Linked DNA regions of Homo sapiens: region 1 is linked to region 2. The links come from fine-mapping of genetic effects on gene expression. A gene starts in region 2. The other region holds a variant in brackets. All regions are shown on one strand. Distances are between the middles of the regions.

Region 1 (16,125 bases), 56 kb before region 2:
GGTCTCACTAACACATCCTTAGTTTAAGACTTCCTGAGGATTTCCTGGAGTTGTGAAGGTCTGGGAAAATCAGAATGTCATGCTGGAGAACCCTGGAGTCTCTGGTCTGACCTCTCTCTTTACTCACCAGTGGAGAGCAGAGGGGATCAAAGGCCACACCAAGCCGTTCACTTTAATCCAGCAAATCAACACCGGCAGAATAGTGGTGGGCTGGCTTTTAGTATTTTTAGATTTTGCACTATGATATAGTTTGGACATTCATCCCCTCCAAATCTCATGTTGAAATGTGAGCTCCAGTGTTGGAGGTGGGGCCTGGTGGGGGGTGTTTGTGTCCTGGGGGTGGATCCCTCATGGGTGGCTTGGTACCGTCCCTATGGCAATGAATGAGTTCTGGCTCTGTTAGTTACCTTGGGATCTGATTGTCAAAAAAAGTCTGGTGCCTCCCTCCTCCTCCTCTTCTCTCTCGCTGTCTTTCTCACCATGTGACACACTTGCTTCCCCTTTGCTTTCTACTATGATTAAAAGCTTCCTGGCCAGGCGCAGTGGCTCATGCCTGTAATCCCAGTACTGTGGGAGGCCAAGGCGGGTGGATCATTTGAGGTCAGGAGTTTGAGGCTAGCCTGGCCACCATGGTGAAGCCCTGTCTCTACTAAAAATAGAAAAATTAGCCAGGTGTGGTGATGGGCGCCTGTAATCCTAGCTACTCAGGAGGCAAGGCAGGAGAATCGCTTGAACCTGGGAGGTGGAGGTTGCAGTGAGCCAATAGCGCCACTGCACTCCAGCCTGGGTGACAGAACGAGACTCCGCTTCAAGAAAAAAAAAAAAAGCTTCCTGAGGCCTCACTGGAAGCAGATGCTGACACTGTGCTTCTTGTACAGCCTGCAGGACTGTGAGCCAAAATAAACCTTTTCTTTATAAATGACTCACCCTCGGGTATTCCTTTATGGCAAAGCCAGATGGACTAATACACACTTCTTGAGTAAAGAAATTCTAGCATGAACACAAACTGTCCCTTTTTAAATTCTGGAGGATCATGATGTATTGGTGATGGCTGCAAACCTAAAAGGAACAGGTGAAACAAGCATCGTCTACCAAACTGTAAACTCACTGAGGGCGAGGCTGCGTTCTGTTGAGTCCCGAACTGCCAGTGTGCAGTACTCAGTAGGTGCTGAAAGGGCATTTGCTGCATGAACAAATGAACAAGCTCAGATAGAGCTGTTCTGGACAGCGTGGAGACGCATTGCTCCATGTCCCCGCAGTGCCCACTGTTCACATCCAGATAAAAACTGCTTCAGTTCAACACTGAACCAGCCGCAGAAAGGTCAAGAATGCCCACATGCGGCCATGAGCCCCTAACGTGCAAGGAAGTGAGCGAGGAAGTTGGCGACGGTGCTTCTTCTCCTGCCAAAGGTGGCGGACAGGCAAGGCTGACTATATGGTCATGCCCTGGGTCTTTCCCTCTTGGTCCAGGCATCCACCAGCTGTGCCACAGTGCAGCTCTCTCTCTCAAGAGGGTGTCAAATTTTAAGTCAGCACATAAAGGAACACATAGTAATTACATATTGAAATTAACGGTGAAAATCCTTTAAGGTGAAGACCAACACACACCTTTTCATAAATCCAACTGCTTGTTTTTCTTCCAGGATTAGAACGAATTGCGATTTCCTCATTTAAGTACCATAAGGAGTGTTGGCTTAGATTTGGATCATGCCATGGAAAAGATATGTATCTTTAAACATGAGAGATACCTGAAGTGCGGTTATGTATTCACAAGATGAGAGGCAGGTGGAACTGTAGACCAGCGGAGGGAACGAGAAGCATGAGTGGCTCTCTCACTGACGGTGGCCCCACGCCCAGTCAGCCTGAGAGAAACGTTCCTAGGATGTGACTGCACTAACCCTTCTCGTTTCTCCCCAACCCTACGATGCTTAGCTGTCAACTGCTGTTGCTTGGAAGCCCCCTCAAGAGTCTCAGGAGGGCCCAGCCCAGCAGAGCACAGGCTCGAGCCCATCTCCAGGCATCAGTCAGGGGGAAGGGGCAGGGCCCCATTCAGCACAGGGGTCTTCTGAGCAGATGTCAGTTGACCCCGGACAGCACTGTCCTTTCTTGGAGCAGAAATGCTGGTGCAGGGTGGAAGAGAGGACTCTCGGTCCTTCTGTCTTCAAACGGGACATGTTATAGTGATGAAGCCAGGCAAGTGATGAAGAGCATGGACTTTAGAGCCAGATGACTTGGGTTCAACTCATGTGATCCTAAGTTACCTAACCTATCTGTGCCTCAGTTTCCCCATCTGTAAATTGGGATAATAACATCTCCTTCATAGGGTTGTGATAAGGATTAAATGAGTTAATATTGGAACTCAGAGCAGTGGCTGCCTCATAATGAATGCAACAAAGGTGTCTGTCAGGTGGAGTAAGTGCAGGTGCCCAGAGCAGCGGTGTGGGAAGCTCCTGCTCTCTGCTCCACCGTCCCTGCTGCTTCATAGCTAGTGCTAAGTGGCTCCTCTCATCGTTACACTGTAGTATGCAGTTTTTCTTTTTTTTTGAGACAGAGTCTTGCTCTGTTGCCCAGACTGGAGTGCAGTGGCTTGATCTCGGCTTACTGCAACCTCAGCCTCCTGGGTTCAAGCGATTCTCATGCCTCAGCCTCCCAAGTAGCTGGGATTACAGGCATGAGCCCCTGTACCCAGCCTGTAGTATGCATTTAAGGAGCATAATTCTGAAATAGGACATAACAGGACCAGGAAAGCTGACTTGCAAAACTACTTCAACTAACTTGGCTTTTCCATCCACAAATCACCCTATGGCCCAGAATTTTCTCTCTCAAATACTATAAAGATTTCCTACAATGTGACATGGAGGATAATGAAAAATTCGTATAGTTTAGAAAGTCACTGATTTAGAACTTCTCAATTTCAAGTTATGTGCTTCCGATTTCTGTAAATAAAATTAAACCCCGTTTTAAGATTCAAGAAAAGTGTTGAAATGTAAAAAAGTTGGTAACATGATTCTCCATCAACTGATATAGTACAGAAAGCAAACAATTTTTCTTTTTATCTTTTAAGTTATGGTAATAAAAAAATGGAAGTGGGTACAAAGCCCAGGACAACAAGGGGCCTAGAAACGCCTGTTTTTTCTCCACAGATAAGGATAAAGAGGGCCCCTTCCTTCCTTACTAGGAACACTGTTAACACCATCATCTTGGAACTCCGCAAAACTTCTACCACAACAGTTAGGAAGTGAAAGGAGGAATCTGACAAGAAGAATCTTAGTTTTCCCAAAAATTATAATATGCTGCTGCTCCTAATAACTGCTTGTTGTTGTAGTTTTCAAAGTACTTCCGCATACCTTATGTCACTGAACCTATACAGGAACACTGTGACGTGGGTAGAAAGGCAGGATCATTCCTAATCTGAGATGAATACTCTATAACAACCTGTAGACAGCAAAGTCTCTGAGTCCCACATTTCTTCCCAATGTCAGTTAGTGTAATAACGTGCCACTTTGGTGGCTCCCACATTAACTGTGACTTCACAACCAAGAATGAGTCCGAAAACACTCCGACTCTGCCTTTGCAGTCAGGATCATGAGTGACAGTTGCCATAATGCAGAAGCACTTACTTGGATTTGAAAGCTTAAACCATGATTGCTTTCAGTACTGCTCCGGTACCTCTGTCTGCACGTGGCAGGTGCGTGTGGGCACTTGTGGGACACAGGGGTGGTCTGGCACACTGACCTTGAAGCTTCAGCTGGCAGCCTTGGCAAGAAAGATGTCTCTGCCTTTCAGCTTCCCATAGTACCAGGCAGTAAGAATTACAGGACTCAAGCTCTGCTAGAAACTCTTACCATCCCTAAAAAAGATTTCAGCAAGAGACACGACTACCAGGCCACACAAACCGGGTCACCTAGCCTTCTGAAGGCAGAAGCAGCGATGGTGCATGGGGCAGGACGGGCAGGGAACAGCACGGGCATGTCCTGTGGGGAGGGCGTGGAGGGCATGTTCTCCCCGTGGCAGGGAAGAATGACAGCGCCACCTACCTTGCTGCAGACAGTCTTCACCTTGTGCAGTCTATCCAGCGACTCCTGTGGGTTCCCCAGGTACTGCTGAAGCTCCGCGTGCAAGATGCGCATCGAGAAGGGGACCATGGAGCCTGGAATCCAATCAGTGCTGAGTGAGTTTGTTTGCCATAACTGAGCACGCATTCATACTTGGCACACTTGAAGGAGGCGTCGCAGATGTCCCAGCAGAAGTGATGACAGATCCCTTTATTTCTTGTGAAGTATTTAACGGTGTCAACTATAAAATACATGCTGGTTTTCTCTATGGAGCTCTATGTATGTATGTCTCGACAATTATCAGAGGAGACAGGTGGATGACACCACAATTTCCAAAGCTACACTGCAATCATTTAGAAATGATCCCAAAATGAATGAAACAGTAGAGACCGCCAACCCCTCCTCCAATAAAAGAAAAACCAGAATGCTCAGATATTCTTTAATATTTCTTTAGTTTAGCAAGCTCGAATGGTAGGTTGCTTAGCTTGGGTTCCCCAGAAGGAGACCCTGAAGGGAGAAGCCGTAAGCCAGCCAGTGGTTCCGGAAGTGCTCCCGGGAAAACCAGTGGGGAGGAGGCGAAACTGAGCACAGGTGCGTCTCAGGCCTCGGCCCTGGGGATGGGCCTCCCACTGGATTCCATGTGGCCCTGGAGCCTGCGTTCCACCTCTGACAGGAGGCAAGGGAGCTGGACTTGAAAAATCCATCACCCAGAGCTGCCTGGCTTTGCGTGCGCTAAGAAGAGGAAGAAGCTCAGGAGAAACCCCCTTTATATCGTATCACCTGTGGCTGCATCATCTCTCAGGGTAAGGTCAACTTTTTGTTAATATTGTGTTCTCTTCTAATAGGATTTGGAATTTGATCTGTAGTATGTATACTAAGTAGATAACAATCATCAAAAAATCAAATAGCGTGCACTGATTATAAATGAGATAAAGAATAGAGAAATGCCAGAGGGCAATCACATAGATTCAGTAAAGTGCTTTTCAAAATAGGCCTAAGCGATGAATATTCGGATCTGGAATATAGTCTGAAAGATGGTGAGAAAACACGCGTATGACTTCTGCAAGCCACTTAATGTATCTGTGCCTCAATGCATCCATCTGTCTATTCATTAACCATTACTGAGAATGGGCCGTGACCACACTGAAATGAGCTTTATGTTTATGGTCTTTAATAACAAAGGTCCAAAAAGAAGACAGTCAAAATTAAGGAACACTATGGAAAACAGTTCTATTGTGATTATAAGCCTGGAGAAAAGAAAGGTAACAATTATTGAACTTAAAATGTTTAAACTTTCTTTTTTGATGCCACTAAATAATTTCTGTATCTCAAGAGAATATCTGGCCGAGCTTAAGTTACAGCCTGAGTCACTTCGGTTTTCTAGAAATAAACATTTCTAGACCATCCGCATAATGACACAGGGGACTGGCCTACAATTAAGTCATATGTAAGTCATGTCACTGTGGAACCGGCCCAACATGGTAAGTTATATGTAAGCCACGTCACTTCCATCCTTCTGTCTCAAGTAGAGAAGGGGCCAGAATCACTCCTGTGTGGTTTATCACTTACCACAAGGGAGAGAATATCTCAAGAACCCTTCAAGCTCTATAAGATAAGCACAGAAACAAACCTCTACTGGAAGTTCTCAAACCCAACTTGGGACTAGCTGTTAATACTCCGATCTCAGTTTACAGACTAGCTGTTAATACTCCGATCTCAACGTACAGACTAGCTGTTAATACTCCGATCTCAACGTACAGACTAGCTGTTAATACTCCGATCTCAATTTATAGACTAGCTGTTAATACTCCGATCTGGAATACAGTTTGGTGGATGGTGAGAAAACAGGCTGTGTGACTCCTGCCACTTCACCTGAGAAGGTGGCAGAAAGTTAGCTGCCCCTTATCCTGACAACTGCCCATGGACATGGGGGTGCTTCTGGATGTAAAAGCACATGTGAAAATATTTTGAACTAAGTGAAAATAAAAATACAACTTATCAAAATTTGTGGGATGCAGCAAAAGCAGTGCTGAGAGGAAGCTTTTTAGCATTAAATGCATATATTGGAAAAGAAAGATCTGAAACCAGCTTCACCTTTGAAAACTAGAAGGAAAGAAAGAGCAATATAAGCCTAAAGTAAGCAGTAGAGAAGAAAATAATAAAAATATTATTTTATTATAAGAAAATAAAATATTTTATTATAAGAAAATAATAAAAATATTATTGTATTATAATAAGAAAATAATAAAAATATAATAATAAAAATTAGAGCAGAAATCAGTGAAACTGAAAACAGGAAATCAATAGACAAAATCAACCAAACCAAAAACATATTCTTTGACAAGACCAATAAAACTCTGACAAGACCAATAAGTCTCTCCCCAGGCTAGTCAAAAAACAGAGAAGACATAAACAACTAGTACTAGAAGTGAAGGACTATTACTATGGATCCTATGAACAGTAAAAGAATAGTAAAGGAATATTATGAACAGCTCTATGTCCATACATTTGGTAACTTGGATAGAAAAAGAAAAACCTTTCCAAAAAGCAAGCCCCAGACCCAGATGGTCTCACTGTGAATTCCACCTAACATTTATGGAAGAAATGCTACCAGTTCTCTACAATCTCTTTCAGAAAACAGAAGCAGAGGAACGCTTTCTAACTTCTTATATGAGTCTGGCATTACCCTAATACCAAAACCAGACAAAGACGTTACAAGAAAAAAAAACTGTAGACCAATATGTCTCATGAACATAAATGCAAAAATCTTCAACAAAATTAGCAAACTAAATCTAAGAAAACTGAAGTCAACAAAAAATTAGCAACCAAATCCAACAATGTATAAAAAGAATTATGAACCATGACCAGACAGAATTTATTCCAGGTATGCAGGGGTGATCTAACATTCCAAAATCAATTAACATAATCTACCACATCAAACAGGCTAAAGAACAAAAATCATATCAATAGATGTAGAAAAGCATTTAACAAAATCCAGCACCAGCTCGTGATAAAAACTCTCAGCCAACTAGGAATAGAGGGAAACTTCCTCAACTTAATAAAGGACATCTACAAAACAACTGCAGCTAACAACAAACTTAAGAGTGAGAAACTCAGTGACTTCCCCCTAAGATCATGAATAAAGCAACAATGTTCCCTCTTATCTCTTCTACTGAACATTGTACTGGAAGTTCGAGCTAATGCAATGACAAGAAAACCAAAGGTACACAGACTGGGAAGAAGGAAATAAAACTACTTGTTTGCAATGACATAATTATAAAGAACAATCTCAAAGAACAAAAACACTTCTAAACTAGGAAGTGATTAAAAGTCACAGGATACAAGATCAATATGCAAAAGTCAACTGGCTTCCTAGATACTAGCAATAAATGATGGGAATTTGAAATTAAAAACACACTATCATTTCTACATAAATAAGTGAAATACCCACGTATAAAATGGACAAAATATGCACAAGAGCTATAGGAAGAAAACTATAAAACTCTGATGAAAAAATTCACAGAGCTGAAGAAATCAAGAGATATTCCACATTCATGGACAGGAAGACAATACTGCTAAAATATCAGTTCTTTACAACTTGACCTACAGATTCGATGCAGCCCCAATCAAAATCTCAGCAAATTATTTTGTGGTTATCAACAAAATGATTCTGAAGTTAATATGGAGAAGGAAAACACCCAGAACATCCAACACAATATCAAAGAGAGCAAATCTGGCAGGCTGACACTACCCACCTTACAGAGCTACTCTAAAGCTACTGTAAAAAAGACTGGGTGACTGTGTGGTCCTAGAAAAAGAACGGACAAATAGATCAGTGGCCCAGAGCAGAAAGACAAGAAATTGGTCCTCACAAATATAGTCAGTTTGATCTCTGACAAAGGAATAAAGGTAATTCAATGGAGAAAGGACAGGTTTTTCCAAAAATGGTGCTGGGACAACTGGACGTCCACATGAAAAAAAAAAAATGAATCTAGACACAGATCTTACATCTTACCCCAAAATGAACTCCAATAACAGACTACATGTAAAGTGCAAAAACTATACAACTTCTAGAACAGAACACAGATGAAAATCTGAGTGACCTGGGTTTGCTGATAATCTTTTAGATACAACACCAAAAACACCATCCATGAAAGAAAAAAATCAGTAAGTTGGACTTCATTAAAATTAAACACGTATGCTCTGTCCAACGTAGTATTAAAGTAATGAAGAGACAAGTCACAGATAGGAAGAAAATAGCTGTAAAACACCTATCTGATAAAGAACTTGTATTCAACATATATGAAGAATTCTTAAAAATCAACAACAGGCCAGGTATGGTGGCTGATGCCTGGGATCCCAGCACGC[G/T]GGGAGGCTGAGGCGAGCTGATCGCTTTTTTTTGTTTCTACAAAAAATACAAAAACTAGCCAGGTGTGCCTACAGTCCTAGCTACTCCATTGGTTGAGGTGGGAAGGCTGCTTAAGCCCAGGGGCTTGAGGCTGCAGTGGGCCATAACTGCACCACTGGACTCCAGCCTGGGTGACAAAGTGAGACTCTGTCTCCAAAAAACAGACAATGAGAAAACAACCCAATTAATAAATGGGCAACAGATCTGAACAGACATATCACCAATAAAGATTTATCAATAACAAGCATATAAAAAGATGCTCATCATCATATGTCATTAGGGAACTGCAAATTAAAACAATGAGGTAACACTACACACCTATCAGAATAGCGAAAAATCCAAAAAATGACAATACCAAAAGCTGGCTGAGGATGTGAATCAATAGGAACTCTCATTGATTGCTCTTAGGAAAGCAAAATAGTATGAAAGTTTTGGAAGATGCTTGGCAGATATTTACAAGGCTAAGAATACTTTTACCATAAGATCCAGCAATCACAGTCCTAGAGATTTACCCAAGGATTGGAACTGATAAAGGTGATAAAACTTGTATCTACACAAAACCCTGAAAAAGAATGTTTATAGTAGCTTTATTCATAATTGTCAAAAACCAGAAGCAACCAAGATGTTCTTCAACAGAGAAATGGATAAATAAGCTATGGTATATACATAAAATGGAATATTATTCAGAGATAAGAAACGTACTATCAAGCAGAAAAAGACAGCGGAACCCTAAATGCACATTCCTAAGTGAACGAAGCCAATCTGAGGACCACATACTGTATGATTCCAACTATAAGACCTTTGGAAAAGGGGAAACTATGGAGACAATGGAAAGACTCCAAGCTCCCAGGGGTGATGGGGGATTAACCCAGGGGGATGGGGGGATTAATCCAGGGGTGAGGGGGGATCAATCCACGGGTGGTGGGGATTAACCCAGGGGGATTGGGGGGATTGATCCAGGGGTGGCGGGGGATTAATCCAGGGCTGGTGGGGGTATTAATCCAGGGGTGATGGGGGTTAATCCAGAGGTAGTGGGTGTATTAATCCAGGCGTGATGGGGGATTAATCCAGGGGTGATGGGGGATCAATCCAGGGGTGGAAGTATTAATCCAGGGGTGATGGGGGCTAACCCAGGGGTGATGGGGGCTAATCCAGGGGTGATGGGGGTTAATCCAGGGATGGTGGGGGGATTTATCCAGGGGTGGAAGTACTAATCCAGGGCTGATGGGGGGATGAATCCAGGGGTGGTGGGGGATGAATCCAGGGGTGGTGGGGATTAATCCAGGGGTGATTGGGGGATTAATCCAGGGGTGGTGGGGGGATTAATCCAGGGGTGATGGGGTATTAATCCTGGGGTGATGGGGTATTAATCCTGGGGTGATGGGGGGATTAATCCAGGGGTGATTGGGGGATTAATCCAGGGGTGATGGGGGGATTAATCCAGGGGTGATGGGGTATTAATCCTGGGGTGATGGGGTATTAATCCTGGGGTGATGGGGGGATTAATCCAGGGGTGATTGGGGGATTAATCCAGGGGTGGTGGGGGGATTAATCCAGGGGTGATGGGGTATTAATCCAGGGGTGATGGGGGATTAATCCAGGGGTGATGGGGGGATTAATCCAGGGGTGATGGGGTATTAATCCAGGGGTGATGGGGGGATTAATCCAGGGGTGATTGGGGGATTAATCCAGGGGTGATGGGGTATTAATCCAGGGGTGATGGGGGGATTAATCCAGGGGTGATTGGGGGATTAATCCAGGGGTGATGGGGGGATTAATCCAGGGGTGATGGGGTATTAATCCAGGGGTGATGGGGGGATTAATCCAGGGGTGATTGGGGGATTAATCCTGGGGTGATGGGGTATTAATCCTGGGGTGATGGGGGGATTAATCCAGGGGTGATTGGGGGATTAATCCAGGGGTGGTGGGGGGATTAATCCAGGGGTGATGGGGTATTAATCCAGGGGTGATGGGGTATTAATCCAGGGGTGATGGGGGGATTAATCCAGGGGTGATTGGGGGATTAATCCAGGGGTGGTGGGGGGATTAATTCAGGGGTGATGGGGTATTAATCCAGGGGTGATGGGGGGATTAATCCAGGGGTGATTGGGGGATTAATCCAGGGGTGGTGGGGGGATTAATTCAGGGGTGATGGGGTATTAATCCAGGGGTGATGGGGGGATTAATCCAGGGGTGATTGGGGGATTAATCCAGGGGTGATGGGGCATTAATCCAGGGGTGATGGGGGGATTAATCCAGGGGTGATTGGGGGATTAATCCAGGGGTGGTGGGGGGATTAATTCAGGGGTGATGGGGTATTAATCCTGGGGTGATGGGGTATTAATCCAGGGCTGATGGGGGGATTAATCCAGGGGTGATTGGGGGATTAATCCAGGGGTGGTGGGGGGATTAATTCAGGGGTGATGGGGTATTAATCCTGGGGTGATGGGGTATTAATCCAGGGCTGATGGGGGGATTAATCCAGGGGTGATTGGGGGATTAATCCAGGGGTGATTGGGGGATTAATCCAGGGGTGGTGGGGGGATTAATCCAGGGGTGGTGGGGAGATTAATCCAGGGGTGGTGGGGAGATTAATCCAGGGGTGATGGGGTATTAATCCTGGGGTGATGGGGTATTAATCCTGGGGTGATGGGGGGATTAATTCAGGGGTGATGGGGTATTAATCCAGGGGTAGTGGGGAGATTAATCCAGGGGTGATGGGGGTATTAATCCAGGGGTGGTGGGGGGATTAATACACAGGGCAGTGAAACTATTCGGCATGACAGTACAATGAACACGCAACGCCATTAATTTGTTGAAACCCACAGAAGGGACAACACCAAGAGTGAGCCCTAAGGTAAACTATGTACTTTAACAACAATGTACCGCTATTGGTTTATCAATTATAATAAAAGTTCTACGCTAATGCAAAATTTTTATACTTATTAATAATAAAAATGCAAGATGTTATTAAAAACTGTGCAGAAGAAAAGAGGGTATATAGAACTCTCTACTCGATTTTTCTGTAAATTACAAAAAGGGAATACATATATTCTTTAGTATACAATAAAGATGGTGTCTCCAAGGTATTAGATGGAAAATGGAGTTTTTAATGAGCATGGTTCAGATATGGGGATTGCCACATGAAAAAAGATAAAATCAGATCCATTTCTTTGGGGTGAAGGACTGTGTTCTTGGGATCTCAAATTGAGACTTAAAATATGTATTTTTTTTCTCAGAAATACTATTAAATATAGTGGCCAGCTGTAGCTGAAAGAGTAATATTAATACTTGATTAAAGGTACATTCTGACCAGCTGCAGTCTTATCACCTGTGCCCTTGTTAGAACTTCAGAGTCTCAGGCCCTGCCCAGACCTGCTGCATCAGGGCCTGCCCTCCACAAGAGGCTGGGTGACTCCTGTGCATGCTGAGATGGAGAAGCACTGCTCTAAAACAGTACCTTACTGATGTGAAATTAAAATTCGCTAACTCAAAGGTTATCAGGTAATATCAACTATATTTTTATAATGCCTCAAAATGCACATTGACCTTCCTTAGGATCAAATTAAAACAGGTAATCGGTACTATACAGTGCCTTCATTATAACAGGTAATTAGTACTACATATAGTGCATTCATTACATATCACACAGGAAAATGTCCCTCATTAGATATATATTGTTTCCTTGCTACTTCTACCCTTTTAAAAACCACACAGGCGTTTAAAACCTAAATGGGGGTTAAGGGAAAAGAAAGTGATGAAATTCTGCCTGAACTTCTGTGAGGCCTTGGGGACCAAACACCTGCTTGTACTCGTGGACTCTGCGCTGCTGGAGCAGGTGGAGCTGAGCTGTGCTCAGATCCTCCTCCTCCAACAAACCCAACTTCCGGGCTCTTTTCAAATCTCCCCCGTGCTATGGCACTCCCATTTCTACTGCTTTTGGGAGGTGGGGAGGATATTTTTGTGAACAAAATGTACCAATTTCTTCCTTACATTTGGGGGACATATTGAATAAAATCACAATTAAAACTAGCGCTAATGTAGCAAAATTCTTTCAGAATTAAATTTTAACATTTTAAAAATGTTAATGTTATTTAAAAAAATGTTAATGAGCCATTCCCCTGCCCCCCCAGTAACAGTTAACAGTAACTCAGCTGGGCGCGGTGGCTCACGCCTGTAATCCCAGCACTTTGGGAGGCTGAGGCGGGCAGATCACTTGAGGCTGGAAGTTAGAGACCAGCCTGGCCAACATGGCGAAAACCCCGTCTCTACTAAAAATACAAATATTAGCTGGGCGTGGTGGCATGCGCCTATAATCTCAGCTACTCGGGAGGCTGAGGCAGGAGAACTGCTTGAATGTGGGAGGTGGACATTGCAGTGAGCCGAGATCGCACCACTGCACTCTAGCCTGGGCGACGGAGCGAGACTCCATCTCAAAAAGAAGAACATACAAACCACAGTAACTGGAACTTCTGGGCATCCTCGTTGCCACAGAGGGTGATCGGCTCCTCCTGCTGCACCGGCCAGTCCCTCGGTCCAGATGGAAAACTGTAGCCTGAAGGGGACTGCCTGGGGTTCTGTGGCAGGGAAGAGATGGCTGGCTGTGTCCTCATTATGGTGGCACTATTCCCTCACGCTGCCACCTCTCCTTGTAGACACTCGGTTATCAAGTAAACAAACATTCCCTAATCCCAATTCATCAAAAACTGCCAACATACGGCCACCAGGCCACTTGGCAGCCGCTCTGCAGAGACTGTCAGCTGGAAGCTCTGGCAGCATCCCCCAAACAATCCTCTCTCATGCTTCCCTCAATGGGAACCTAAAAGCTGGGCTCTCCCAGGTAGACGCAAAACCAAGAAAGACAGCAGCGGTGACCCAAGCCGGCCAGGTTCTTCCTTAAATATGCTGTCATTGTTTGTGCCTTTCTTAGCAATAGCTGGAGCAAAGTGAAGACTGAAGTGGAAAAAGATCTTCATCCTCCTTGACTTGTATCATTGAAAAAGTCTTGCACAGGTTAAAAATCTTAAAGAATAAAAATCCGAAGGAAAAACATTATCTGCAACTTCATATGAAAGAGAAAAATGTAGGGAATTAAATCAGAAAGAAAAACACCCCTTCCTAGAAAAAATATATAGATCACAGAATTAAAACAATAAATGGAAGCAGCTGGAGAAACCATCTGTGAGCTCCAGGTAAGGTGTGTGAATTTCACTGAGCTGACATTTACTCAGCAGCTCCTAGCGCTGCGCAGGAGGGCCTGCACTGGGTGCACACAATGACAGCCACGAGGTCCGTGTCCTCAAGGAAACTACTCCCCTCTTCAACAAGATGCATACAGAAGCTGCTTTGGTGTAATTCATACTTTTGTTCTTAAGTAAATGCACATAAAAATACCTTTAAGCTGATTCTCTCAGTGGCCAAACCTAGCCCCTGTCTCTGAAGAGCTACCCTGGGAATCTCACTGAAATCCTCCATGCTGAGGGTGGTTGTCAAGCGAGATAAAATATGCAAGGCTTCCACACCAGCCCTGAGGCCCGTCTCTCTCCTGCAGGGAGAAAGAGCATTGGAAAGGAAAAAAAAAGGAGAAGCTAGTCAAAATCTGTAAGGAAAAACAATTCCTAGTGGATCTATTTTTCCGGAAGATTCCCATGTATAGTTGTGACCTGCCAAAATCTAGGTTGGTATAAATACTGTAGAAGTGTTCTCATTCATCATTTAGAAAACATTAAATGAAAATACTCCTACAAAATTTATTTCAGACCGTCCCTTGTTGTGCTGAAAATCCGTGCTGCCACTATAGAAAAGAGAAATGTGCCAGGAATTGCCCGGGCCTTGGTGCTGGGCAGTGAAAAATGAAAGGGAACAAAGATGACATTTCAGCTTCCCTTCAGTGGGGTATGCTACCTTCCGCCACTCACTAGCTGTTTGTGCTGGGTGGCTCACATCCTCTCTGCAGCCTTCTGTGTCACTGCAAACTAGGGCGGGAGGGCCCAGAGGCAGCTAGGTTGCCGTGAGGCCGCAGCAGGTGTGACATGATGCCTGGACGCCTGTGCCACCTGCCTCACAGAAGGGTCTGCGGGAGCCTTCCAGACCCTTTGCCCAATTTTAACAGCTTTCTTCAGTAAGGCACAAACTTACAAGTTTGCCCTGGCATTTCCGTCTCATTTTCAAGTTACGCGAGTGCTTTGCTGGGAAGACTGCTTTGTATTTATTTCCCACTGTCTCTGCCTGTCTGGGTGTGTCCTTCCCTATCCTGACCTCAGCAGGCAGGATAAGCCATGCCTTTGGTTTGCCTGTGCTCAACGCTGGGGATACTGCTTGGTGTCTGTGCCCGGCCAAGCACACAGTGTCACACTTACAGCTCTCAACAAGTCATTTTTGACTTTAATGTGGCATTGTAAATTAAAAACAAAACAAAACAAACCAAACACAAAAACAGTGAGAAAGTCCTAAGAGAAAAAAATACCTTAAATATTTCTTATTTAAATGATTTGCTTAACTAAAGCCCTGAAGCATGAAGACAAACTGAGGCTTGGGTCACTGCCTCTGTACGCGTCTGCCACAGTCATGTGCAATCCACGTGTGGCTTCAGCTACAGCCCAGTGACTGGCCAAGGCCTGTATCTTGTGCAGACAGGATAAGGAGAGGTCTCCATTTGGGTGTTCTCATGGTAGATACGGAACCCCAAACTGAAAATTCCCCTATTTTTAGTAGTTTGTTCTAAGAAAAGACTGAAAATGCCAGATTTCATAAAAACGGTGGGCAAAGTGAAAAGCAGTAAGATGAACTAACGAGCCTTCTCCGAACAAATAAAGCAGCGATCACATGTCCAACCATCAACGCTCGGGAGTTCTGATGCAAAGCATTGTGACCTGGAAATCTAAAGCAGAACGTGGTCACTCTGCAAGGTGAGGTAATTTTGTCATGAAAAATAAAATCCGACACTGGAAACATGCTGAATATTTAATTCTGAGATATCACATATGGTTATGTGTTGATAAAAAAAAGTTTCAGAATTTAATTTGAGAACTCAAAATGTGAATTTCATGATTTTGGAGGGAGGATGAAAAAGGAAGAAAGATCCAGTGACAGTGTGCCTTTATGCACATAGAGGAGCAGACAGCTGATGGAAGAGTAGAGAGATTCGGCATCCGATTAATGGAAGTGTTTGCCCCATCCACTTTAATTTGACCTGATGGTAATCCGCACGGATTAAGTTCTGAAGTACCATTTCCTGTGACGTCATTACAGCTCTTGTAACTTAGTCTAAACATGCAGATCTGAATTTAGTATTAGAAGCAGCACTATACTTCTTAAACTGCATAGTGAAGATAATCAAGCTGCTTTATTTCCAGCGGGAAGATCTTTTGGGCTCCTATTTTCCCTCTAGTTGCATGGAAACTTGAAGTGAGCAATCTAATGCAGAATGTGGTACTTTAAAAATTCAAAGCACTATGAAAGTTTACATGCTCACTGCCATTGTGAATGTTTCTTTGGAACGAGAGGGGTAATTCCAAACAACAGATTAAAAAGATGGTGGTGGGGGTCTGGAAAAATTTAACTGCCTGAGAGAGGATGAAATTAAACTTGTCAGGAATGGACATTTAATTTTCTTTAACATAGTGAATATGTACAACACAAGAGTGAACCCAAGTGTAAACT
Region 2 (15,055 bases):
CCAAAATACGGATGTCTATAGGCTTACACTTCAGTTATCTGAAAAAATTAATTGGCTTCATTTCTCTAGTATGTCACTTTTCTTTTCCTGGAGAATTCACCACTCCTAGGTCTCAGCCATCTATCAATTCAATAGCAATAGTCACAGTCATACGATTGGCTTATTGGCTTACCTATTTGTGTTCAGGAGTGAGAGTGGAGTGGGTAAGTGGGTTCAGGAGTGGGTAAGTGGTTGCACTAAAGGGGGCTGTAGGTCCTTCTTTCAGTTTCAGGAAGACAGACACGCACAGGATCTGAGGCCAGTAACTGGGAGGTGGGGCGCCCCGTCATGTACAGTGCCATATGGAAACTACTAATCCTGTCCCACAATTTGGTTGCAATAAACTAAAACTGACATGCATATGATTTAATCTGATACATATGTATACATATATTTATAAAAATTTTATCATACTATGCATGCTACATGCTATCTTCTGTCCTGATTTTCAAATTTAACAGTATGAGATGAACCTCATTAAATATTCTGTTTTATATCTTTTTAAAAATAGATTTTACAATTTATTTATATTATTATTCACCAATGATCAGAGGAAGATTTTATTACTTAGAGGACTTTTAGGTTTGCTGCGAAATTAAGCGGGTATAGAGATCTTCCATATATTGCCTGTCCCCCTACACACACAGTCTTCCCCATGATCAACGCACCTCGCCAGAGTGGTCCACCTATTACAACTGATGAATCTACATGGACACATCATTGTCACCCAAAGTCTACAGCTTACATTAGGGTAGACTCTTGGTGTAGCACTTTCCATGGGTTTGGTAAAATAAATAACAACATGTACCCAGCATTAAAGTATCACACGGAATAGTTTCATTGCCTTAAAATCCTCTATGTTCCACCTGTTCATCCCTTCCTCCCCCTAACCCCTGGCATCATTTTAAAAACTTACATAAATATTCCATTGCAAAGATGAGGTGAGTCAAATGTATTCAAGCCTCCTAATAACGGGCTTTTAGATTATTTCAGATTCTTTGCAATTACAAACCACCCTGATAGACATCTCAACAGCTGGTATATGTATAGAAGTATGATTATGTCCTCACAATACATTCCTAAGAGTGGAATTTCTGGGTCAAAGAATATGCACATTTGATACGCATTTTAAAATTTACTTAAATATGTTTGTACTGATTTTGGTCCCATCTGGGCTGCCTTAGAGAGGCTATTTTCCCACACTTCAACAAACAGTAGATCATGATTGATAAATGGAAACGGAAATGACTCGAGTGTGATGGCAGCAGGAGGCAGACAAATCCTAGGCAGACAGGGGCGGTCCCCGGTGAAACCTGACTGGAACTGAAGACAGTTTAAAGCCTAGCTGCAAGTCCCGGATAAACCCACGTAAGGGACTGAGAACCTTTCGTCCCATGTGGAGCACTTTCCTCTGATTGATTACCCCTCTTCACCTATTTTACATATACCTACCCTTCCCCAACTGGTTTTTTCCACTGTCGTGCCCACCTTTGAGTGGTGACTTTGTTTTAGCCTTCTTTTTTGCATACTCACAATCAGCATGCACCCCTCCATTCTGAGCCCAAAAAAGCCCCTGAGCCAGCCACACTGGGAGAGACACCACCTGACTTTCGGTGGGGGACCACCCTCGCCTCCCCTCTCTGCTGAGAGCTGTTTTGTGCTCAATAAAACTCGTCCGCCCTCCTCACACTCTGGTTGTCGGCATAATCTCGTTCTTCTTGGAGGCAGGACAAGAACTCAGGACTCCGCGGAGTGCAGGTACCAAGACAGCAATAACACTGTAACCCTCCATCCCCCACCCCCTTCGGCTGCCCCACTCAACGGGAAGCAGTGGTCTGTTAATGCGCCCGTTTAGAGCCGTTAAGATGCCCGTTAGTCCGGCAGCAGATGCGGGTCGAAAAGAGCTGTGTGCACGCTGTAACATCCCCTCTCGGGCTTCGGGGTCGCGGTTGTTGCTCTTCGGGCGCCACGGTGTTCCCCTCGCCTGGACGCAGGAGTCCACTGTGGGAGTCACTTGCCACACGCCTGGTCCAGCTACAAGCCCCGTGTGAAGCCTGCTCCTATGCTGGCGGTTGGAGCAGCCCCCGGACCCCTACACTCAGTTGCTCGCACAACCCACCTGCTGGGGGCTGAGAGCACAGTCACCGAGGCCACGGGATATGCCAAAGCGCAAGCCAGGTGCGGCCCGGCAGGCCTAGTGGGCGAACCTGGGCCGAGAGAGGCCTGGGCAGGGGCATCGCCGACCACGGAGGTCTCCAGCTGGCAAAGCGGCACCGAAAAAAACCCTGCATCAATTGTCTTTCATTAGTAGTGAGATCGAACATTTGTATGTTACCATTTAGCTTAACATTTATATATTTCTGTGATTTGTTACTTTTTGGGTCACGCGTATTTTTCTTATTCAACCTATAAAAATTCTACATCGGGCACATTATATGTTACAGGAATATATTTTTCCATATTTTAAAGAAAGAAATGGATTTATTATTAACTGGAGTTCAAATGTCAAATGGATTACAGGACATGGAGAACTGACTGAGAGAATTACGGTAGAACTGTCTGCCTTGGTGGTATTTATTTCTACCTCTCTGAGTAGCAGTCCATTAAATATGTTCTGTTGGGGAAACCAACAGATCCCTAATTACCCAGGGACAGAGGAACACAGGCGCTCACAATGGGATGTTAGGAATTACTGAAAACAAGGCCTTCTCCTTCTCCATCCCTAAAGGGGCACTGTGCGTATCTCACAGACGCAGAGAGGAGGCACGGGCTGCGGAGGTGGGAGACCCGGGCTCACCTGGATGTTGTCGAACCTGAGGCCCGGCATGGTGAGGTTCTCCTTGTCCACGAACACGGCGCCGCGCTGCTGGGTGGCCACGGCCCGCAGGACTCCACGCGTAGCCTCGCCGGGAAGCCAGGCGTCGTTCCTCCGGTCCATCTCGCTCATGCTCAGGGCGGTGGCAAAGGGGTCGTCACTCCCTGCAAACACTGCCTGGATGTGCGCGAAAGGCTCTGGCGACGCCGGGGGCGCAGCTGCCTGGGGCCCTCGCATGGCCACGGGTTCGGGGCGCCCCTCGGTCCCGGGCACAGCGAGGGGAGGCGGGCTGGCGGGGGCCGGGGAGCCCGCGCCGGGATTGCTGACGGAAATGAAGGCGGAGGTAGTAAAGGAGTCGAAGAAGTCCGAGGCCAAGGAGTGGCTGGCGGCCGTGTCTCCGAAGAACGTGCTGAGGCTGGGGCTGGGCTGCACGACCTGGGGCGGTGTCCTGGCCGAGGCCTCGCTGGCGCCACCGAAGCTGGGCGACTTCACCATCTGCGGCTCGAAGCCGTCCCCGGAGGCTGGGGGCGCGCGCTGGCTGAAGATGGTGCACACCGGGACCGGCTCCGCAACGGGAGGCTCCTGCTCCGGGCGCGCGGCTTCGCTGCCTGGGACCTCGCGGGCCGCGTCCTGCCTCGGGGCCCCTCCGCTACTGGGTGCCGCGTCCTCGGGGGCACAGTCGCCGTCGGCCTCGCCGCTGGGACTCGGGGTGCCCGCGGGCTCCGGGCCTGGGTCGCCTTCCCCTCCGGGCTCAGCTTCGTCCCGCACTCGGCCCAGGTCGCCCGCGTCGCCCTCGCTGTTGGGGGAGTCAGAGATGAGGACGCTCTCCATCATGTGTTCGTTCAGCTTGTCCGCGAGAGGACTCGAGCCTTCCGATGCGGTCTCGTTCTCTTCGGATCCAAACTCATCTCCGCCAAGATCGATGGTTTCCTCCTGGAAGAGCAACCCCTGCTCCTCCGGAGGCGCGAGCTGAGGGGGGTGCGGGGCCTCCGGGGCCGGGGTCTCCTCGCCGCCGCCAGCGTCCTCCATGACCCTGAAAGCAAAGACAGAGAGAAGGCCCCTGAGCGTGATCTTCATTCACCTCAACCGAAAAATGAGTATTGCTTATAGATTCAAATGACGCAGACTTCCATTTCTCCAGCTTCTTATCCATGTGCTTTTGATTATGGTAAAATACACATAAAATTGACCACCTTAAGTTCAGTAGTGTTAAGTACATCTACATTTCTGTGCAACCAATCTCCAGAACACTTTTTATCTTGCAAAACTAAAATTCCATCCCCATTAAACATTCCCCCGTATACCCATCTCCCCCGCCTAGAGCATCCACCATTCTACTATAAAATAAGTGGAATCACCCGATAACTGTCTTCCTGTGACTGGCTGATTTTACTCAGTATAAAGTCCTCAAGGGCTATTTATGCTACAGCTTGGTCAGAGTTTCCTTCCTTTTTATGGATGAAAAATATTCCATGGTATGCATACACTACATTTTGTTTATCCAGCTATCTGTTGTTGAACACGTGGGTTGCTCCCATCTTTTAGCTATTGTGGATGCTGCTGCAATGAACGTGGCTGTACAAACAGCTCTTTGAGACCCTGCTTTCAATCATTTTGGGTAAATACCTAGAAGGAACTGCTGGATTATATGGTAATTCTATTTTTAATTTTTTTGAGGCACCAAAAAACTGTTTTTCATAGTGGCTGAACCGTTTGTCATTCCCACCAACAGTGCACAAGCCTTGGAATTCACATCCTTGCCAACACTTGTTATTTTGTTTTTATTTCATAGTAGCCATTCCAGTAGGTGTGAGGTTCCAGCCATATAAACACTACTTCATTCTGAGAGTCAGCTAAGTCCCTCCTCTTCCATGAAGCCCTCCCAAGACTCTTCAATTTGTAATAGTCTCTTGACTTCCCCATGCCGTCCGCCCCTACCCCCGCCCCACGCCCCAGCTCATATTATCTGCCTGACTCTGGAAATCTGATACAGTGCGAATGACATGAAAAATTTAAACAGTAAGAAAACAGCACACTCACTAAGCACTGATGGCTGAAGCTGACAACACAACTAGCTAACATTTATCCGCACATACTATGCCCCTGGCTATATATACATATGCCTGTGTGATTCTCAGAACACCCCTCGAGACAGCTGCTATCACTGTCTTCGTTTCGCAGATGAGGACACTGAGGCCTTGGGAGGCTATGTAAGCCGAAATCACACCGCTAGTGAGTGGGGAAACCAGGACCAGCCAAAGAATGAGACAAAGAGCTCAAACTGTAAAAAAGTATTTGTTCTTTTTCTTGAAAAACTTTTACTTTATGTAGTTTTACTCTCATAGTGAACAAATTCAAGTTAAGGAAATCTAAGAGACTATGATAAAAGATAAGGGATTTTTTTCAGAATAAAACAACACGTACCTTTTTTACTTAAAAAATGACACTTAGCTGATCTCTAGATAAGACTACCCTTTTCTCACTGTCAACACTTCCATCATAGTATTCCCAATGAGTCAGCCTTCCCAAAACATTATTTTAAAGTACATAATCCAAGTTATACATTTTGAAGAAGTTTCCGGTTCAGCCTGGTCAGCTACTAATTCCCTTATACATTCATCCAATAATTGTTAAGTATAAATGAATAAAAAATCCAATGAAAAGGAGTAAAACGTTTTTTTTCCTGCCATGTTTCACCGGGAGCCCGAAGAACAAATTGCCCTAGAACCCCAAAGGGGGAGCCCCCTGTGCATGGTAAGGCTGCTCCTTCGGGTCCTTCCTGTGCAGGGATAGAGGCCGGGCACAAGGAGCAAACAGGCAGCATGAGGCAGTGCCCCCTCTGAAGTCTCCCAGCAGGACTTGAAGGCACTAGCGTGGTCTGCGTATTTTATTTTAGAAATAAGAATTGATTTCGATATAAGCTAATGATGAGAGAAAGGGATCTTCCCTCCGTCTCATCTACCCTCAGCCCTAACAAAATTCTAGGTTCTAAAGCTAATTCTGATTCAATCTCACAGATTTTAAAAGTTTTATTGCCTTTGTGAAGAAACTTTTTAAAGAAACAATTCTTACTATTGTGAAGATGAAGCTGCTTTAAACCTGTAAGATTTAGGGAAATCTGTTTATCAGAGATATAATAACAAAAAACATCGCCTAGAAAAACCACCAAAATAATAAAAATTAAGGTAAAATGCTTCTAAATTATAAAGCTTAAAAACTTTATAAATTGTAAATTAAGGAGAACTGATAAAATGGGAATGTCCAAAATTTTCATTAATACCTGCAAACCACTTTTGAGAAGAGAAGAAAATAAAAAAATAAATTTTATTCTTAAGTAAATACCAAAGTAATAAAAAGCCCTAATAATTTAGGGCAAGGATGATCACTTTTGCTTTCACACAAATAAAATCTAGATGCAGGAAAATGCTTGTAAGTAAGGATCTGAGGGTTTCTTCTCTAGAAAATCAAGAGGAATGCTCAAATAAAAATGATATAAAACGTGATTTAGATGATGCTTTTATGAATGGGAAGACATACATATATTATAAAGCTACATCTATATAAATTATATACATAAGATTTTGTGAGAATGGACATATAATTTGTAGCAAAATAGCTTCTTCACTTCAAGGGTTTCCTTACTCTAATCTTATTCCAATGTAAGGTTCAAATGCAAAGCAGACACTAGTAATAACCATGTATATATGACGAGATAGTTCTATAACCATAAAAAAAGTATAACCAGTAGTTAAGTCTTCCTACAAAGAAAATATAGGGTCCAGAGGGTTTACCAGTGAATTCTACCAAAGATTCCGTACAGATAATTCCTACAGTACAAAAATTCTTGCAGAGAAGAAAAAAGACACATGACCCAATTCACTTTATAAGGCTAATATAACCTTGAGACCAAAATTTGACAAGGCCATACTAAAAGGGAAGCTATCATCTCACTCATGAACACACATGCAAAAATCTTGAAATATTAGCTAACTGAATCAGCAATGTATTTATTTTCTACCAAACTCAGGTAATCCCAGAAATGTACTGTTGGTTTAATGCGATAGATTAAATAAAAGTACATGACTATCTCAATAGATGCACAAGAAAGTATCTAATAAAATTCAGCATCTGCTCAAGATAAAACCTGTCAGCAAACTAGCAACAGAAAGTAACTTCCTTAATGCAATCAAAGGTATCTACCAAAAACCTAAAGGAAACCTCAAATTAACAGTGAAACGTTTAAAGCATTCTCTTTAAAAGTAGAAAAAAGATAAAGATGTCCTCTTCAACATTTTTATGCTGCCTAATACTGGAGTCCTCGGGCAGGATTAAGGCAAGAAAAATAACTAAAAGCTACAATAAAAACTGAAAAGAAAAAAATACAAACCTTCATTCTTCGTGTATGATTATTTATGTAGAATACATCAAAAATCTATGGTATAAAGACTGAAATATTGGGCCAGGCACGGTGGTTCAGGCCTGTAATCCTAGCAATTTGGGAGGCCGAGGAGGGTGGATCACCTGAGGTCAGAAGTTCAAGACCAGCCTGGTCAACATGGTGAAACACTGTCTCTACTAAATATACAAAAATTAGCCAGGTGTGGTGGAGGGCGCCTGTAATCCCAGCTACTTGGGATACTGAGGCAGGAAAATCACTTGAACCCAGGAGGCGGAGGTTGCAGTGAGCCGAGATCGCACCACTGTGCTCCAGCCTGGGCAACAGCAGCGAAACTTCATCTCAAAAAAAAAAAAAAAAAAAAAAAAAAAAAAAAAAAAAAAAACAAGACTGAACTATCACAAGGGAATATGTAGCACACATCAAAGGAAGAGACGATTTTCCTTGAGTGATGTGTAGACAAATCATGCAGCTGGGAAAAAATAAACTTGGAATCTTGTCTCACCACAGACACAGTATCAATCTCAGGGACGTTAAAAACTTAACTGTGAAGGCCGGGTGCGGTGGCTCACGCCTGTAATCCCAGCACTTTCGGAGGCCGGGGCGGGCGTATCACGAGGTCAGGAGTTCAAGATGAGCCTGGCCGACATGGTAAAACCCCGTCTCTACTAAAAATACAAAAATTAGCCAGGTGTGGTGGCGGGCACCTGTAATCCCAGCTACTCTGCTACTCGGGAGGCTGAGGCAGGAGAATCGCTTGAACCCAGGAGGCAGAGGTTGTAGTGAGCCAAGATTGAGGCACGACATTCCAGCCTGGGTGACAGAGAAAGACTCCGTCTCGGGCGGGGCGGGGGTGGGGGATCAAAAATTAACTGTGAAAGGCAAAACTTCAAAACTTTCAGAAGAAAATATAAGAGAATATATTTTCAGAGTAGGCAAAGCCTCTTAAACTAGGCATAATCAGTACAAACCATAAAGGGAAAATGGATACATCTGCTATATTAAAATGGAAAGTTCTATCATTAAAAACCTAAAAAAAGTGAAACAAACAAATGTAACTGAGAAAGGATTAACACGAAGAATACATAAAGAATCCCTACAAATTAATAAAAGCACACTAAATGATCCATTAGAAAAATAAGCAACAGAGCTGAAAGAGGTATACCTTTGAACATCCATGTTGAGAAACCACTTGGTATTATCTAGTAAAGTTTAAAAAGCACATTATCTTATCACTTTGATAACTATACATCTTGATTTTTCCCAGAACAATTCAATTTTTCACCCATGGTTTAAGTTATTTCTATTATTTTATTAGTATTATTATTTTATGAGACATAGTCTGGCTCTGTCACCCTGGCGGGAGTGCAATGGGACGATGATGGCTTACTGCAGCCTCGATCTTCTGGGCTCAAGCCCATCCTCCTGCCTCAGCCTCTGGAGTAGCTGGGACTACAGGTGTGCACCACCACACTCAGCTATTTTTGTATTTTTTGTAGAGATGGGGACTCAATATGTTGGCCAGGCTGGTCTCAAACTTCTGAGCTCAAGTGATCCTCCTGCCTTGGCCTCCCAAAGTGCTGAGATTACAGGCGTGAGCCACGTGCTTCGCCTCAGTAAAATCATTAAGTGTCTCCTTTCACTCTTAAAGGAGTCTTGGTTGAGACAATAAATATGTGGTCGTAGTACCTAGGACCTAGCAATTCCACTGCTAGATACCTATCATGGAGGAATTCCTGTACATGAGCAGTGTAAGCTATGATGCTGAATTTCATAAATAACACATCAAAATACCTTTCTTCTAAAGTCCTAAAAGAAAAAGTAGGCTGGGCGTGGTGGCTCACATCTGTAATCCTAGCACTTTGGGAGGCCGAGGCAGGCGGACCACGAGGTCAGGAGATCAAGACCATACCGGCTAACATAGTGAAATGCTGTCTCTATTAAAATACAAAAAATTAGCCAGGCATGGTGGCGGGCGCCTGTAGTCTCAGCTACTTGGGAGGCTGAGGCAGCAGAATCACTTGAACCCAGGAGGCGGAGGTTGCAGTGAGCCAAGATCGTGCCACTGCACTCCAGCCTGGCGGCAGAATAAGACTCCATCTCAAAAAAAAAAAAAAAAAAAAAAAGTGGAAATAAACACTGCCTGTAGACACAATAATAAGTAAATAAGTAGACTGTGGTATACTAGGACATAAAATATTAAAATAGTGGTGAAAATCAGTGAACTCTTCCATATCTAACATATAAATTATGTTTGGATCTCACAAATACAATTTTGCACAAAGAATGAGTAGAAAAATAAACAGCATGACTCTGTATATTCAAAAACATGTAAATTAAACAAAAGTGTTGAATCCAAACACTTTTTCTGTGTTAGGAACACAAACATATTTGGTCAAACTACAAAGAAAAGCCAGGATATAGTAACAGCCACTTTAGTGAGGGAGGGGTGGAAGGTGATGGCAGGAGAGCTTGACTGGGGAGGGACACACGGAAGTTTCAACGCACTGGGAAATGGTCCCCATCTTATGCTGGTAATGGAAGACTGGGTTGACTTGATCTTTAAATCTCACATGTGTGTTACGGGTAGTCTTTATAGTTCATAATTAAAAATGGAAAAACACAAGTATCTGTTCTTGATTTGTACGTGATAGAAATCTTTACTCCCTCCTATCATTGGCTTTATTTTTATTAAACTATAAATAGGATTTTAAGCTTACATAAGCTTACAGAAGCTTTACATCACAGTGCAGCAAAGAAATCTGACTTTCTCCTTGTCCAGTTGAGGGCTTTGCACAAGAATGTGATTAATTAATTGTTTAAAATTTTTTTAAATATTAAATTTAAGTAATTCTGTATTTGAGAAATAAAAAGTTCCTAACAACATTTAAAACTTGGTTTCTCAGGTTCATTTCCTGGACACAGACACTCTGTAAACATATCTTTTACCAAATTGCAGTCATGTAAAATTTCCTTCCATAAGGGCACGAGGGTGTGTAGTGGAAATCTAGGTGGCACGTATTAACAGAAGTCTCCATGTAATGAACACTCACTACAGATCAAGCATTTTACCTTATTATTTAATACTCATCCTAAACTTTTGAAGCATTATTATTACCTCCATCATACAGCAGAGAAGGCCAAGTGATTTGCCTAACATCACACTGACAGTACCTGATGGTGACAGGCTACCCACACAGCGCTTTCTGCCAATACTCTTTTCTTTGTGCTGGTCACCTCTCAGCTCCTCTTGCAAGGTTGCCAGGCAGGGGTGGGCAGAAAGAGCTCTGAAGGCAGTGTCTCAATAACTGTGTTGAGTCTTAGCTTCCCGACCAAGTGAAGTAACCTCTGAAAATCTTGATCTTTTAGATGGTACATCAGAATAAAGAGGATTAAATAGTGGCACCCCTGCATAGGCATCTTTTAAAGTGTGAAGAGCTGCACAGACACAAGCATAGTAATTATCATTTTAATGATAAAGCAGAGTGGCAACACCCAGTTTAGTAACTGTGAAGAAGATCCCATCAGATATCACAAAATGTAAGAACTGAATGAGTAACACTGTGTAATATTTCATTTGCTTTTCCCCTGTCCCTCTCCCACCCCAATCCCAAGACGGGACTGGCTCATTATCCGCCACTATCTTCTGAATTTGCGAACAGTGACTGAATCCAAAGACACCATATCTTCAAGTAGCCATTAAAAAGTACAAACCGTAGGTCCAAGAAAATTTTTCCTTGGGGCTACACTGTTTCGTAGTGAAGAGTGAAAAAATGACACGTTAAAACACATCTTTGACCCTAACGCTTTCTGTTGAATAAACGCTTTTTCGGTCTTCACAGTAAATATACTCTACAATTAGTATGTGTAGCAACAGCGGACGTTTACACAGTGACTCAAATGCTTTTACACTGCATTGCAGCCTCACAATGCTGAGTTTGGCAGGGCAGGTCATTAGTAACCTCTTTCCGCGGGAGGGTGAATTAAGTCTAAGGGAAGTTAAGGGGCTTGCTGGGGGCCTGGCTGGCACCAAGCCTGGAACTGGGGGTCTCGGGGACGCCTGGGCGCGCGCCAGCGGGTAGTTTCCCACACGCTTCGCAGCAGCTTCCCCTTCCCGCAAACTCCGCGGGCTGCAGAGACGCTTCCAGCCCTCTGCAGACGTGGAGAGCAAGGGCCGCGGCGACGTGGAGCCTGGCACAAGGCCCGCGGAGCACACACGCCCTTGGGTGGCAGGCGACCCCGCGCCCGGACCCCACGCCCACTCTAGCATCGGTCCCAGAGAAGGTCCCTCCGGGCTGAGGCCAAAGCCAGTGTGCTCCCTCCCCGAGGTGGCGCTACACGGTCCCATCCCCTCTGGACTGCCGAGGCCCTGATCCTCACCTGCCACCCGCCCACTGGAGCTGGGCTAAGGGGTCACCTGCGGCCGTGACCAAGGTCCGTGAGGAAGGTGACAGAAGCCGGGAATCGGAGAGGAACTGGCACCCCCGGGGAGCTCTGTACGCCTGCGCGTGCCGGGCCGCGGCGCGCCTAGTTCTGCTCAGGCCCGATGCAGGAACCCGAGGCCCTGCCCCCAGGCCGGAAATGGGGTTCGTTTCCGGTTCGTCTGCTGTGGGCGGGGCCTGGAGCCCTAGGTGTGAACGCGCACAGGCAACCAGGAGCCGGTAGTTGAGGGGAGCGGACCCTGTACTTGGAAATGGGAACGGAGACTCCACTCCACCTAGCCTGATTCTGTCACTCAGAGGCAATAGGCAAGCCTGTGGCAGATGGGGCGGGTGAAAGGGAGTCGCTTAGGCTATTTTTATTGACCAGCATATCCTAGAAATCAGTGTTTCTATGGATTTGTCTTTGTGTTTATCTGTATTTTGTAAGTTTCTTACCATGCACCTGCAGTACTTGTATAATAAAATTAATGATAAAGATATCAGTGATAGATGGGTGGGTTTAATCCCGAAGTATGAAGGCCCTCTTAGCTCCGCAAGTTAATATCGGCAAACAGAGTGGTTGAATAGGATGATTCTCATGTCTGGGCCATTGCTTACTTGATTTCTTTCTTTCTTGTTTTTGCTTACTTGATTTCTTTCTTTTCTTTTCTTTTTTTTTGACCGACTCTGGCTCTGTCGCCCAGGCTGGAGTGCAGTGGCGCGATCTCGGTTCACTGCAACCTCCGCCTCCCGGGTTCAAGCGATTCTCCTGCCTCAGCCTCCCGAGTAGCTGGGATTACAGGCGCGTGCCACCACGCTGGGCTAAGTTTCGTATTTTTAGTAGAGACGGGGTTTCACTGTGTTGGCCAGGCAGGTCTCGAACTGACCTTGTGATCCACCCTCCTCAGCCTCCCAAAATGCTGGGGTTACAAGCGTGAGCCACCGCGCCCGGCCTGCTCATTTGATTTCTCATGTAATCTCTAAAATTTCATACACTCAACAGATACTCATCCAGCCTTAACTCAATACCACGCGCCTTGCCCAACTGAGCAAAACGAGACCCAACCATTTCCGTCACGGAGATCAATAAAGGGTAGAGGGGAAAGCTAATCACAGAAATGGAGGAAAGGTGCGTGGTCCTGGAAGCCCCGGTGGAACCAGGCTAGCGGCGTGGTTCAGCTATGATGTATTTTGGAGTCCTTGCGATGCCATTTCTGCTGGCCCAAGGCCAGGGCAGGCACTTTGAGCAGGATGCGAAAGAGGGGCAGTCTCTCCACCACAAGTCTTTAGTCTTTGGAGACCTCTAGGAACCCCAGGGCCTTCCCTTCCGACTCCCATTCGGAGGCATATGCAGTCCAGGACCACCAGTGGTGCGGTGCCGGCTTTCATAACCCCATCCTTGGTAGTGCTTTCTTTGCCACACAGTGCTGGGCACCTGCAGAAATGCATTAGGCATGGCCCTGACTTAGGGCACCTTGGGCCGAACCTAAGGGAGTCAGCTCAGGTGCCCATCCTGGCTACCCAATGGACCAATGAGCGCTGCGACTGTGTTACTCAACTTTGCAGCGTCTCATCGGTAAAATGGAAGTGTAACAGCTTATTCATAGGGTTGGATGAAGCTCCTTATGGCAGTGCGTGTGAAGCGCTGGCCCAGCGCTCAGGAACGCCAAGTACATACAAATGACAATACATGGCGGCGCCCAACTACGGCGTGAGCGATTCTTAGATGCGATGGCTAGCTAAGGCTAATCGCCGCTTGCTCCCGACGGCCTGCGCTCGGAGCCGGCCTCCACCCACAGCCGGCCTCCGCGGCCCGCTCCGCCCACCAACTTATTTCCTCTGGGCCGGGTTCTCACCTCCAGGAGTCCCCGCGCTGAGAGCCCGGATGTGAGCCCAAGTGGCCATGCGCACAAGCCAGCGCCGCTGCCATTGGTCGCTGGTGAGGAACAGATTGATGACACATCCGAAAAATAGGAAGTGGCCACTACGGAAGCTGTTCTGGGCCAGAAAGACTTCCAGTTTGGAGTCGTTTGCTGCGGGGAGGGAATGAATGGGCGCTGGGAACACGCCCGCGAGGTGGGGACGCGCCGGCCGTAGCGAGGTCCTTAGCGTGTGAGTGGCCGGGGTCGGGTCGCTTCCCCGCAGCATGGAGGACGATGCACCAGTGATCTACGGGCTGGAGTTCCAGGTGGGTCACTGGGAGGGCGGCAGGTGCTGCTCGGCCTGGCTGTTGATAGCATGCGCGGTCCCATGGTGACTTCGGTTTGCAGATCTCCCACCAGCCCTGCAAGGACCCGTGTCTGTTCCCTAGTTCCCATTTTGCAGAGAAGTAAACTGAGGCTTTAGGAGGTTAAACGGTTGTACTGGATAACAGGGTTGGCCACAGCCGGCCTGCCTCCTTCCCCTTCACATCCTGTCCCGAACATGACTTCTGACCTGGAAGTTATCACTCACTTTGGTGGACTCATTTATTTACACGCCCACCTTTTCCTCTAGAATTTGAGTTCCTGAAGGTAGGAACTGTATGTTGTTTAAAATAAAAATGTTTGATTTTGAAACAATTTAAAGTATTTAGAAGAGTTGTAAAAATACATAGAAAGTTCTTCTTTACCCTCCACCCAGCTTCCCTTAATGTTAACACTTTACATAACCATCGTACATTTATCACAGCTTAGAAATTAACATTGGTACACTAATATTCAGTAAACCACAGACTGTCTTCGGATTCAACTGTTTTCACACTAGTTTTTTACCTTGTATTTTCCAGTGCCTTTTCATGACTGTCACATAGTAGGTGTTCAACAAATGACTATGAACCGAATGAGCCCCCAGAGCATAAGCAATGCACATGGTAGTTCAGGACAGCAAGAAAGCTGCCGTGGATAGAGTAAATGCGTCAGGGGGAATGAGGTAGGGGATGAGATGAGCGGGGGAGGAAGATGAGGATTGTGTAGGGCCTGTTAGAGCCCTGTCCTGGTTTTCATCTATTCAAGTAGCTTTTGAGAATGTGTTATGCCTAAAGCACTGAGGGACAGATAGAGAGATAGAAACACAGTTCACTGCCATATGAAATACTTGATACATAATTTTGTGCAGCAGTATGTGTTAAAGATATAAATGATGTCTGCTTTTTTTTTTTTTTTTTGAGATGGAGTCTTGCTCCGTTGCCCAGGCTAGAGTGCAGTGGCGTGACCTCGGCTCACTGCAACCTCCGCCTCCCGGGTTTAAGTGATTCTCCTGCCTCAACCTCCCAAGTAGCTGGGATTACAGGCACCCGCCACCACGCCCGACTAATTTTTGTATTTTTAGTAGATACGGGGTTTCACCATCTTGGCCTGGCTGGTTTTGAACTCCTGACCTTGTGATCTGCCTGCCTCAGCCTCC

The links.
Region 1: its variant is fine-mapped to the expression of TRAPPC12 in whole blood (TOPMed, PIP above 0.99).

Annotation. Positions count from the first base shown.
Region 1 is chr2:3,431,804-3,447,928 of GRCh38, reverse strand. It overlaps TRAPPC12 (trafficking protein particle complex subunit 12), which reads right to left. Exons shown (of 12, transcript NM_016030.6): 6 at 4,038-4,150. Among named protein-coding and RNA genes, the nearest start is that of TRAPPC12-AS1, 43 kb to the left of the region's middle. RefSeq lists a silencer at 14,143-14,393. The variant G/T (reference allele first, on the strand shown) is at 8,424.
Region 2 is chr2:3,376,452-3,391,506 of GRCh38, reverse strand. TRAPPC12 (trafficking protein particle complex subunit 12) reads right to left here and starts at 11,813. Exons shown (of 12, transcript NM_016030.6): 1 at 11,631-11,813; 2 at 2,837-3,887. The coding sequence starts at 3,883. EIPR1 (EARP complex and GARP complex interacting protein 1) reads left to right here and starts at 13,689. Exons shown (of 9, transcript NM_003310.5): 1 at 13,689-13,859. The coding sequence starts at 13,818. RefSeq lists silencers at 11,793-11,842, 13,406-13,465 and enhancers at 12,331-12,847, 12,848-13,364, 13,636-13,685, 13,706-13,885, 13,906-14,185.